Linked DNA regions of Homo sapiens: region 2 is linked to region 1. A link means that fine-mapping ties the variant in region 1 to the expression of a gene that starts in the linked region. Tissue or cell type: whole blood. Region 1 holds a variant in brackets; the other region holds the start of a gene. All regions are shown on one strand. Distances are between the middles of the regions.

Region 1 (5,227 bases):
TTAAAATACCTGGAAAATATATTTTAAACAACTAGTTGATGATGTGAGAGAACAACCAAAAACACATACAAACTAGAGAGAATCTGACACGTGAAGGAGGGAAACCGCATTAGGTGAGACCCACATTTGTAGGGCTTTTCTCCAGATTATTCCCCAGGTTGTGCAGGATTGGGTAAATAGAACTCAATATGGAACCACAGTTTTATTGGCTTGAAGGCAGAATTGACAAAATTCAAGCCTACCAGATGACTGGATATTGAGGGGAGAAAACCTGGAAAGATGGGGCCACAGAAAGAAGAACCTCCACATATGTAAACTCTTCAAGCCCTCACATCTTCCTAAACTGTGCATGTGCAAGGGAAACTCTAAGAGGTCCAGACAGGAGCAAGAGCTAGGATGCTGAAAGATAGGAACTGAGATTTCAGCTGTTTCCCACCCATAGGAGAAAGAGTTAGAAGCTTGAGTGACATAAAATTAATGGGCTTAAAACACCTTGGGATTTCTACTGAAACCTCACACTGGCTATGCCTTACGAGCAAAGACCATGTCCACGGACTACAGAATTGACTAATTTGACTACAGATGGGTTTAAAGATACTCAAGATTGTTAAGATGTTAATTCCCCTCAAACTGATCTATAGATCCAACACAATTTCAATTCAAAATACAGCAGGATTTTGTCTGGAAATATATAAGCTGACTCTAAAACTGATATCAAATTGCAAAATACTGAGAATAGCTAAAATAACCTTAAACATACAAAAAAGAACGGAGTTGGAGGGCTCATACTATGTAACCATAAGACTCACTATAAAGCAACAGTAATGAGACAGTGTAATACTGGCATAATGTAGAGAAAAGAAAGAGAGATCAGATGGACAAACAGATCAACAGGACAGAACAGATAATCCAGAAACAGACCCACATTATATGGTCAATTGATTTTCAACAAAGGTTCCAGGGTGATTCAAGGGGCCAGGGGAGACTTTTAATAAATGGTGCTAGAACAACTGCATTCGTGTATTGAAAAAAAATGTTTCAACTCCTCTGTAACATCACACACAAATATCAATTTAAGAAGGCATACAGACCTAAACATAAAACCTAAAACTATTTGCTTCTTAAAAAAAAAAAACAAAAAAAGAAACAGGAGAATATCTTAGTGATCCTATGACAGAGAGATCTCTGAAGACATAAAACATATGAACTACAAAAGATGAGATTAACAAATTGAACTTCATAGAAATTTAAAACTTTTGCTCAAAGACACCATTAAGAAAATGAAAAGGCAAGCCACAGACTGGGAAAAAGTAATCACAATACCTATTTCTCACAAAGGACTCATATCCAGAAAACAAAGAACTCCTCTAAATCAATAATAGAAAGACAAATCCAATTTTAGAAAACAGGACAAAAGACTGGAACTGGAAATTATCAAATAAACAAACAAATGACCAATAAGCATGTGAGAAAGTACTCACCATCAGGGAAATGCAAATTTACCCACAGGATATAATTTCATACCCACTAGAATGTCTACGATGAAAAGCAATGGCCATAGAAAGTGTTAATGAGGATATGAAGTAATTGGAACTCTCATGCATTGCTGGTGGGAGTATAATAAAACCACTTTGGAAACCATCTGGAAGTTTCTTCTGAAGTTACACACACACCTACTTTATTACCCAGCAATTCCACTCCTATATAATTATCCAAGATAAATGAAAGTGTTATGTCCAGAAAAATTTATGTGTAAGAAGGTTAATAAAAGCATTATTCATAATAGACAACAATAGGAAAAACCCCAAAAGTCCACCAAGAGGAGAATGGGTAAACAAATGGATGCTACATTTATATAATGGGATACTACTACTCAGAAATAAAATGAAAAAAATACTGATATACACAATGATATGAATCTTCTAAAAACTATGCTGAGTGAAAGAAACCAGACATAAAAGAGAATATACTGTATAATTCCATGTATATGAACTTCTAGGGTAGGTAAAACTAACCTGTGGTGAAATAAAGCACTTTACTTATTGCCTCTGGGAGCAGGGGATTGAAAAAGGGTACAGGGAAATGTTCACAATAATGGAAATGTCCTGTATCTTGGATTGGGGTGCTGGTTATGCAGTTGTATGCATTTGTCAAAATTCAAATTGTTCACTTCTGATCTATCATTTCACCCCCATATAAATTTTACCTCAAGTAAAAAAAATATTGGATGGGGGAGTAGGGAGTACGGTAGCCACAGATGAAGAACAGAATCCCTTACAGGTCACAAATGAGATAGAGATTATAAAGAAGATAACTGGATCCCTAAATTTCTTTCATAGACATTCACAGGCAAACTAAAAGATGGCACAAAACCAAAGACGTAGAGTTCCACAGTCATGAACCAAAAAGACGCAAAAACCATTCAGCTACGATGACACTGGCTAAAAACAAAAACTCATTGAGTGTGTTAAATGAAACGTGAGATTGCCAGATTTAGCAAATATATTTAATTTGGCAACCTGAACCAATAGACCACTGGGCAACAAAATACTAGCCAGCCCAACTTATGAAAGTGATTTTTTAAGCATCTCTTACAACATGCTCTTTTTTATAATGTCCATGATAGAAATTCCTACTGAGTGTAAACCAAGATTACATGTATTCTGGAAACTACCCAAAACTCATTCTTACCTTCAGTGAAACTCCCGGTAAGGGTTATTACCACAAATACTTTCCCCTCTGGCTCGAGATCCACCTACAAAGAGAAAAAAAAATGTATATTATATGTTAGTTTTAAAATATTTTTGTGGGCCTTAAACAATTCATCACAGAGAGGCCTAATGTGTAAATCACAGCCACAAATCAAATAAATCTAAGTCTTTCATTAAATAGTAGAGTGGCAGGGAAACAAGTGAAAGCTCAAAAAACTGTAAAGACTGAAAAGAAAC[C/T]ACATTTTATCAGTTTCCTTCCTCTTGAATTTTATTCTCTCCCATTTTTGGCTTGTCATAATATAGACAGGCACATCCACATACTTGGTAATTGTTTTTGAGACCTCCATATCTTATGCATATGGCTTATAAGAGCAGCATTTTACTAAACCACATGGCAAGAATATGAAATAGAGAAATAACGGCAACATACAAGGTAATGAACACATGTGGCTTGGTCAACTGCAAATCTTTAGTTTTATGGAGTAAAAAGTATAAAGAGTCTCTGCTACATATTTCCACCAAAGTCTGGTCAATCTTAAGGAAGCACTAGGGAAGGAAGTTTAGGAGCCTTGCATTCACTACTCTTTTTTTTTTGAGAGAGAGAGGTAGTTTCACTTTGTTGCCCAGGCTGGAGTGCAGTGGCATGATCTCAGCTCACTGCAACCTCCATCTCCTAGGTTCAAGCAATTCTGCCTCAGTCTCCTGAGTAGCTGGGATTACAGGCGTGTGCCACCACATCTGATCTGTTTTTGTATTTTTTAGTAGAGATGGGGTTTCACCATGTTGGCCAGGCTGGTCTCGAACTCCTGACTTCAAATGATCCTCCCGCCTCAGCCTCCCAAAGTGCTGGGATTACAGGCGTGAGACACTGTGTCGGACTGCTACTCTTAATTAGTCACGGGAGTATCAACATACCTTGAAGTTACCTATCAGCTGAAATATCAAGACATGCATTCTGCAAGCAATGCAGCTTGAAGTCTTTTCATATGGTGTCGTCCTCTGCATATAGTCCAGTTTCCGAAAGACCCCATACAGCATGGCGCCCAGGATGAACAGCACCTCTGGCTCTGTTCTGATCACCACTAGCTTAGGTGGGCGGACTCCCCTCTTCCTACCGGATGCTAACTTCACTATCCATGAACACCTCTAAGCCTTGCATTGTGAGGCTCTTGTGGACTCAAATACATGAATTTACAATTGTCCTTAAATAAATCTTTTCAGATTCTGCCCATGGCTCCATTTTTATTTTATTTTTCTCTTTCTTTGGCTGTGGCTCCATTTCTGCCTTTGACCTTTCATCTGAAGAGGAAGACTGGCATATAGAGAAGTTTCACTAGAGATACGAATGACCATTTTTGGTCAAATATTAAATTTAAAATAAGCTGCAAATAGTCACATGGTACAGTGGAAAGAGCCCCCCTACTAGACCAGGCCAAGAACTCTAGTCTGATTCTGTCACAGCTGGTTCTGGACCCTGGGCAAGGTCCTTTACCACACTGAGCCTCACTCTTCCAATCTGAAAAGTCTATGGCATCATTATTTAGCATTTTTTCTCTTTTTTTTTTTTTTTGAGACAGGGTCTCACTGTCTCCCAGGCTGGAGTGCAGTGGCACAATCATAGCTCACTGCAGCCTTGAACTCCCAGCCTCAAGCGATTCTCCTGCCTCAGCCTCCCAAGTAGCTAGGACTATAGGCATGTGCCACCATAACCAGCTTGCCTGCTTATCTAGGTATGTATGTATGTATGTAGAGACAAGGTCTCACTATGTTGCCCAGTCTCAAACTCTTAGGCTCAAGCAATCCTCCCACCTCAGCCTCTCAAGTCACTGGGATTACAAGTGTGAGTCACTGTGCCTGGCATTGGCCTAGCGTTTCTAACACAGCCTCCACATATGATCTCAAAGATTTTTTTTTTTTTTAAGACAGAGTCTCCCTCTGTCACCCAGGCTGGACTTCAATGCTGCAATCATGACTCACTGTAGCCTCGACCACCTGGGTTCAAGTGATTTTCCTGCCTCAGCCCCCCAAGTAGCTGGGACCACAGGCACATGCCATCATGCCTGGCTTAGAGAGGCATGTTGCCCAGACTGGTCTTGAACTCCTGAGACCAGGCAATCCGCCCGCCTTGGCCTCCCAGAGTGCTGGGATTACAGGCGAGAGCCACCATGCCCAGCCAATCTCAAAGATTCTTAACAGTACTGTTTACTTTTTTAAAATTTATTGTATCTACCCATGACAAAGCCCCCAAAAATGCACTGGACTTACCCTAGGTCACCACCACACCCTGATTATATACTTTTTCAAAATAAAAGATGCCTGCTTTGTTCAGATTCAGAAAGCTTAACCTGTATAACAACCTATTCTTACAACCCACCCTTTCTCTGCATAAAACCTGTTACCAATGTGGTTACCACACTATAAATCACCTCCCTGTTCAAATCAGCTACTTGCATCATGACTACTGTTAACAATATCCTCTTAACTATCTTAATACCACTTGTGAACCTTTATAGAAC
Region 2 (5,227 bases), 70 kb after region 1:
AACTCCTAATCAGACACTAATAGAACTCAACAATTCCATCTGGATGCCTACACTCACTTCTATTTCATTTCCAGAAATTCACAGGATAAATGTAAATATCTAACTGTATTTTAGCAATTCCTCTCTAGTCCCCACTTCTAAGTACCACAAAGTAAATTAGGCTGAAGGGAAATTAACTCAATATAATTTGACGATTAAGGTTAGTCATTATGGTTTTTGTACTTCTATTTAAAAGAAAGGAATAGCTCCACAAGCCATCTTTAATTTTAGAAAATATACGGTAAAATTACTAATTCCACAAAGTATAAAATAAATACCTAAATGAGCCTTCATCACCATCCATCTGATTTCACCACTTGTAAATTTCAAACATTTTCAATACTGATATTGGGTTCAAAACTGACTCCCTCCAGAACTTAAACTATTAAACTCCTGAGAGTCTTCAAATGGCGTACTCCACTTTGCCAAACCAGACTACTTTATTATAATTATCATTCCATCATCTCAAAGTGGGAACGATGACACCTGCATCACAAAGACAGTGTGAGGATTAGGCAGTAAAAGCATGTTAGCACCGTGTAGAGCGCTCTAGAAGTTTTAATTGATTTACAGCAGAAATTATGCCTCCTGGGAACTATGTGAAAAGCAGAGGCAAGGGGAGAGCTGCGGGTAGCTACACGTCAATACCCAGGAACACAGGCTGGTGATGGGGGGAGGGAAGACAGTTAACAACCTCCTGAGGAGTCCTTACAGCCTCTTCTCAGACCCATAGCAGCAGAAACCCACACTGCAGGACTCCCACCTCGGACTGACTAAGTTACTTGCAAGTATATGTAAATCTCATCTCCTTGGAAAAATGCTAAATAATAAAACTGCCAACGTGCAGACCCAGGCGCTCATTTCCCTGCCAGTGTAGCTCATGTACCTCTGGGATGTGCAAGCCGAAACACGTGTGCACGTCTGAGCGGCTGAACCAACATGTATCCATAAACATTATGAATAATACTCGCGAGAATGTACGGCTTTCTCCTAAGTAGCGCTTGAAGCACTTTACCCAAATCAAGTCCCTTTTGTATCACTCCTTCCCTGCCTTTCCTACCTATCACTCTCGTGCTGAAAGTTGGAGCTCCTTACCCAAAGACTGGGCGGAAAGGGTGACCGCCCTGGACCCCTGCCCGACTTCCCGTTAGGCCAAGCCGCTGTCCTGAAAGGGGATCGTGTCCAGGCCGGCTTCCTGGAGACACACCTGCGCCTGCACACACCCACCGCGGTCGCGTCACCAGTGCCGCGGCCACGTGGACGAAGACCAAAGTCTGGAGGGAATTCCCTCAGCCACAAAGCGATGGGAAAGCGGGACCCGGGTGAGTTTTGAAAAACATAAGGGGAACGGGGGTTGGGTGGACACAAAGGGAAGGGGTCACCGCTACTCACCCAACCCTCGAAGGTGTCCGAGGCGCCGGTCGTGCGCAGCAGCTCCTGGAACTGCAGGGTGCAGTTGGCCACGAAGTGGTCGTAGCCCAGGGGCGTCTCGTGGAAGACGGCCAACTCGAGGTGGCCGCCGTCGGTGACGTTAGCGCAAAACTCCTCGTTGTACGTGGGTTTGTTGGTCTTCTGCTTGGTGCTGGTCTGGCCCACGCGCACCTGGTCCACGCTCACCGTCAGATAGGGGTCCAGCAGCTGGTGGCCCTTCTTGAAGAGCGAGTGGCGCAGGGACCAGCGGGTGGGCTGCAGCCCCACTGCCTCACCGATGCGGACCCTCAAATAGCCATTGAACTTCATGGTGCCAGACGACATGCCGGCGCCGCTGCCCCGGCCCCGGGGGGCCGCGCTGCTTCGCAGCGGGAGAACCGGGAGTCCCGTCTCAGGCCAGCCCTCGGGACAGGTGCAGGAGTCGAGGCAGCCCTGGGGAAAGGCAGCGCCTAAGCGCCCCTCGACTGGCCATTCTGCCTCCTCCGTGGGACTTTTCCCTCCCCTCCTTCCCTCCCTCCCGAGGTGGAAAGGAGGGGAGCCCGCCGCCGAGCCCTCAGCGGGCCGGGGAAGCCCGACCGTCCCTTCCAAGCGCGCGGCGCCTCCCGGGGACTCGCGCAGGACTCGCCCCTTCTCCAGGGCCGGGCAGCTCCTCTCCCTGGAGAGCCGGACCTACCCGTCCGGTGAGCCCCAGCCCCAAGCGTCTCTTCCCCCGCCTCCTCTTGCTTCTCCTCCTGCCCCCGCCTCCGAAGGCTCACGCTCTCCCCCACTCGGCGAGCTTCAAACCAGGAAGCAGCTGCCGCCGCCGCATCCCCGGCGAGAACCTCGCACCGCCAGGTTCCAAGTTCACAGAACCCCCGCGTCCGCTCCCGCGCCTTCCGGACCCCAGGGGCGTGGCCCGCGGTCCGCGGCCCGGCCCTGCGGTGGGTGGATCCCCGCGCAAGCCCCCGGGAGGCCAGTGCCCGCTTGCGCCGCCCTGCGCGCCCTCCTTGTAGCGCTGGGTCTGGCCGTGCGCTGCGGGTTAGGGGCCACCCCGGGCGCAGGCCAAAAAGGAAAGGGTTCGTGGCCCAGCCCGAGCAAACACCTGAGGCGTGGTAGACTGACCTGGGGAGCGATGGAAGGTTGGGAGGACGCAGAGGAGGGCGCTCCAGCCAGGAACCCGCGCGGCGAGGAGTCGCCCGCCCCCTCTCTCCCAACCTCCCCGGTGGGCTGGTGACCCTGCAGGGCCATCCCCAAGAGGCCCTGGCCGGAGGCGGGGGCACGGCGGGGAGGTTCTTTTTCCTAATATTTACAGGGATGGCTCATCCCGGGGTCAGCTCGAACGCATCCTGTTTGTGCGCCTTTCCTGCAGAGGCTAATTACACAGTTGTGTGTATGTGTGTGTTTTAATAGGGCAGTAGTAATGATGGAAATCCTGTTCGCCTCCTTCCTCGGAAGGTGTGTCTTGTTGCACATAGAGCAGGAAAGGTCGGTTCTTCTGGAGACAGACATGGCCAAGAGGTAATAAGTCTCTTCCTCTGCGGGTGGTTTCTGGTCCACCCAGCTCTGCGCGGCAAGGGCAGAAAATGTTCACACACACAGGCTGTCCCCAACACACACGCGGAAGAAATTGCCTCTTCTAGGAACACTCCAGCTTGTTGTATTTGCAGTCAGAGTGGGCAGCCTTCTGATGCTTCCCACCCCGTGGTCCCTGCAGATTTTGTCTCCGGGGAGGACCTTTTAGCCTACGCTGCTATGCCGCAAAGCTTGCTCCCTGAGGGCCAGCCACAACCAATTTGTTCCCCAAAAAGCCTAGGCCACTTTTTGTTGTTGTTGTTGTTGTTGTTTTTGAGACGGAGTTTCGCTTTTGTTGCCCAGGCTGGAGTGCAATGGCGCCATCTCGGCTCACCGCAACCTCCGCCTCCCAGGTTCGAGCGATTCACCTGCCCCAGCCTCCCGAGTAGCTGGAATTACAGGCATGCGCCACCACGCCCGGCTAATTTTGTATTTTTAGTAGAGACAGGGTTTCTCCATGTTGGTCAGGCTGGTCTCAAACTCCCGACCTCAAGTGATTCGCCTGCCTCGGCCTCCCAAAGTGCTGAGATTACAGGCGTGAGCCACAGCACCCAGCCAAGCCTAGGCCACTCTTAAGATACTTGATTACATTCTGTCTTGCTATACTGGTTCCCTCGGAGCAGATTCGGCTTGCTTTCATTCCTTTCTTTCTTCCTTCCCTCCTTTCTTTCTTTTATGTTTTAGAGACTGGGTTTTGCTTTGTCATCCAGGCTGGAATACAGCGGTGTGATCATGGCTTACCATAACCTCCAGCTCCCAGGTTCAAGTGATCTTCCAGCCCCTGCCTCCTAAAGTGTTAAGATTACAGGCATGAGCCCCCGTGCCTGGCCCCAGGTTCATCTTTCTAGCCCCCACTCCTCTAAGGCCCTGTTCAGAACTTTCTAATTGAGTAGGTTCTCAACGATTTCACATGAGTGCAAGGAGGCCTGACCCGTAATAACAGCACTATACAGAATGAAAACAAGTAAGGACAATGGGCCAGGGGGGAAAGGGCCTGTCTTGAAAACACCAAAGCTTCCTTAGAGAACAAGGCAGGGATGCAACGCATCACTCTAATGACATCTTAGCTTTAGGCAGGGCTTGTAAAGCCTGCTCCCAAACGTCCAGGGGGCTCCTGTTTGGCCTTAGTGCTCCAGGGGAAGATGTCGCATCTACCCTGTGGGTCAGCTCTGTCACCCTTTCCTCCAAACAGCTGAACTCTAGCTTTAAGAGCCACTAAAGGATTTGCTCCTGTTGGACTTTGGGGCTAAAAGAAAACAGTCCCCATACAGAATCATGGGGTGTAGACTTTAAATTTTTTTTTAAATTTTAAAAAGAAAACAGTCCCCAAATGGTAGGTGGCCACACAGCTGTCCTGGGACTGGGATATGACGATACCAGACACTCCATCTTCACCCTATCAGTACCTATCAGGATTGGCAATGGTGACAGAGCAGTGGGTCAGACAGCCATGGTGCCTGCCCTCCTGGGGCTTACAGTCCCACAAGGAGGAAAAACAACTAATAGAAGAGGGTGCAGTGAAGGAAAAGCCCACGGTGCCAAGGGGTGATGTATTATAACTGGATGGGTGGTCAGGGAAGGGTTCCTTGAAAAAGCAAATAGCAGAGAGATCAGCTCATTGAGAGCTCCTGAGGAGACAGATGGGTTGGCCTGTTTGGGAACCAAAAGCACCCTACGTGGCTGGAGCTGAGGAAGGCGTGGCTGGAGCTGAGGAAGGTGAGGGGAGAGTGGCTGAAATGAGCTTGCAAAGGTGGTCACACTGACCAGACTGGTAGATCACAGGAAAGCCTTGGACATTATCTATGGGCCACTGGACGCCTCTGAAGGCTGTTAAGCAGAGCCAGGGTAAGATGAGGATTTGTGTTTTAAAATACCTCTCTGGGGACAGGCAAGGTGGCTCACACCTATAAACCCAACACTTTGGGAGGCTGAGGCAGGAGTACTGCTTGAGCCCAGGAGTTCAAGACCAGCCTTGGCAACATGGCAAGACTGTCTCTACAAAAAATAAAAACTAAAAAAATTAGCTGGATGTGGTGGCATGTGCCTGTAGTCCCATTTTATTTTTTTAGTAAAATAAAATATCTCTCTCGGGGGTGGATTGGAAGAAGCAGCACGAGTGTGGGGAGACCAGTTTATGAAGCTGTTGCCAAAGTCCAGAGGTGAGAAGATGGTGGCCAGGACTCAGGTGGTAGTGATGGAGATGAAG

What was found. PIP is the estimated chance that this variant, and not a neighbour inherited with it, causes the effect.
Region 2: it holds the start of PRKCH, and the variant in region 1 is fine-mapped to the expression of PRKCH in whole blood (TOPMed, PIP 0.99).

What each region holds. Positions count from the first base shown.
Region 1 is chr14:61,388,753-61,393,979 of GRCh38, reverse strand. PRKCH (protein kinase C eta) reads right to left here. Exons shown (of 14, transcript NM_006255.5): 2 at 2,692-2,755. Among named protein-coding and RNA genes, the nearest start is that of PRKCH-AS1, 69 kb to the right of the region's middle. RefSeq lists an enhancer at 5,106-5,227. The variant C/T (reference allele first, on the strand shown) is at 2,949.
Region 2 is chr14:61,318,669-61,323,895 of GRCh38, reverse strand. PRKCH (protein kinase C eta) reads right to left here and starts at 2,317. Exons shown (of 14, transcript NM_006255.5): 1 at 1,432-2,317. The coding sequence starts at 1,794. It overlaps PRKCH-AS1 (PRKCH antisense RNA 1), which reads left to right and starts at 1,078. Exons shown (of 5, transcript NR_186042.1): 1 at 1,078-1,361. RefSeq lists enhancers at 885-1,428, 1,429-1,973 and silencers at 1,935-2,104, 2,255-2,524, 5,151-5,227.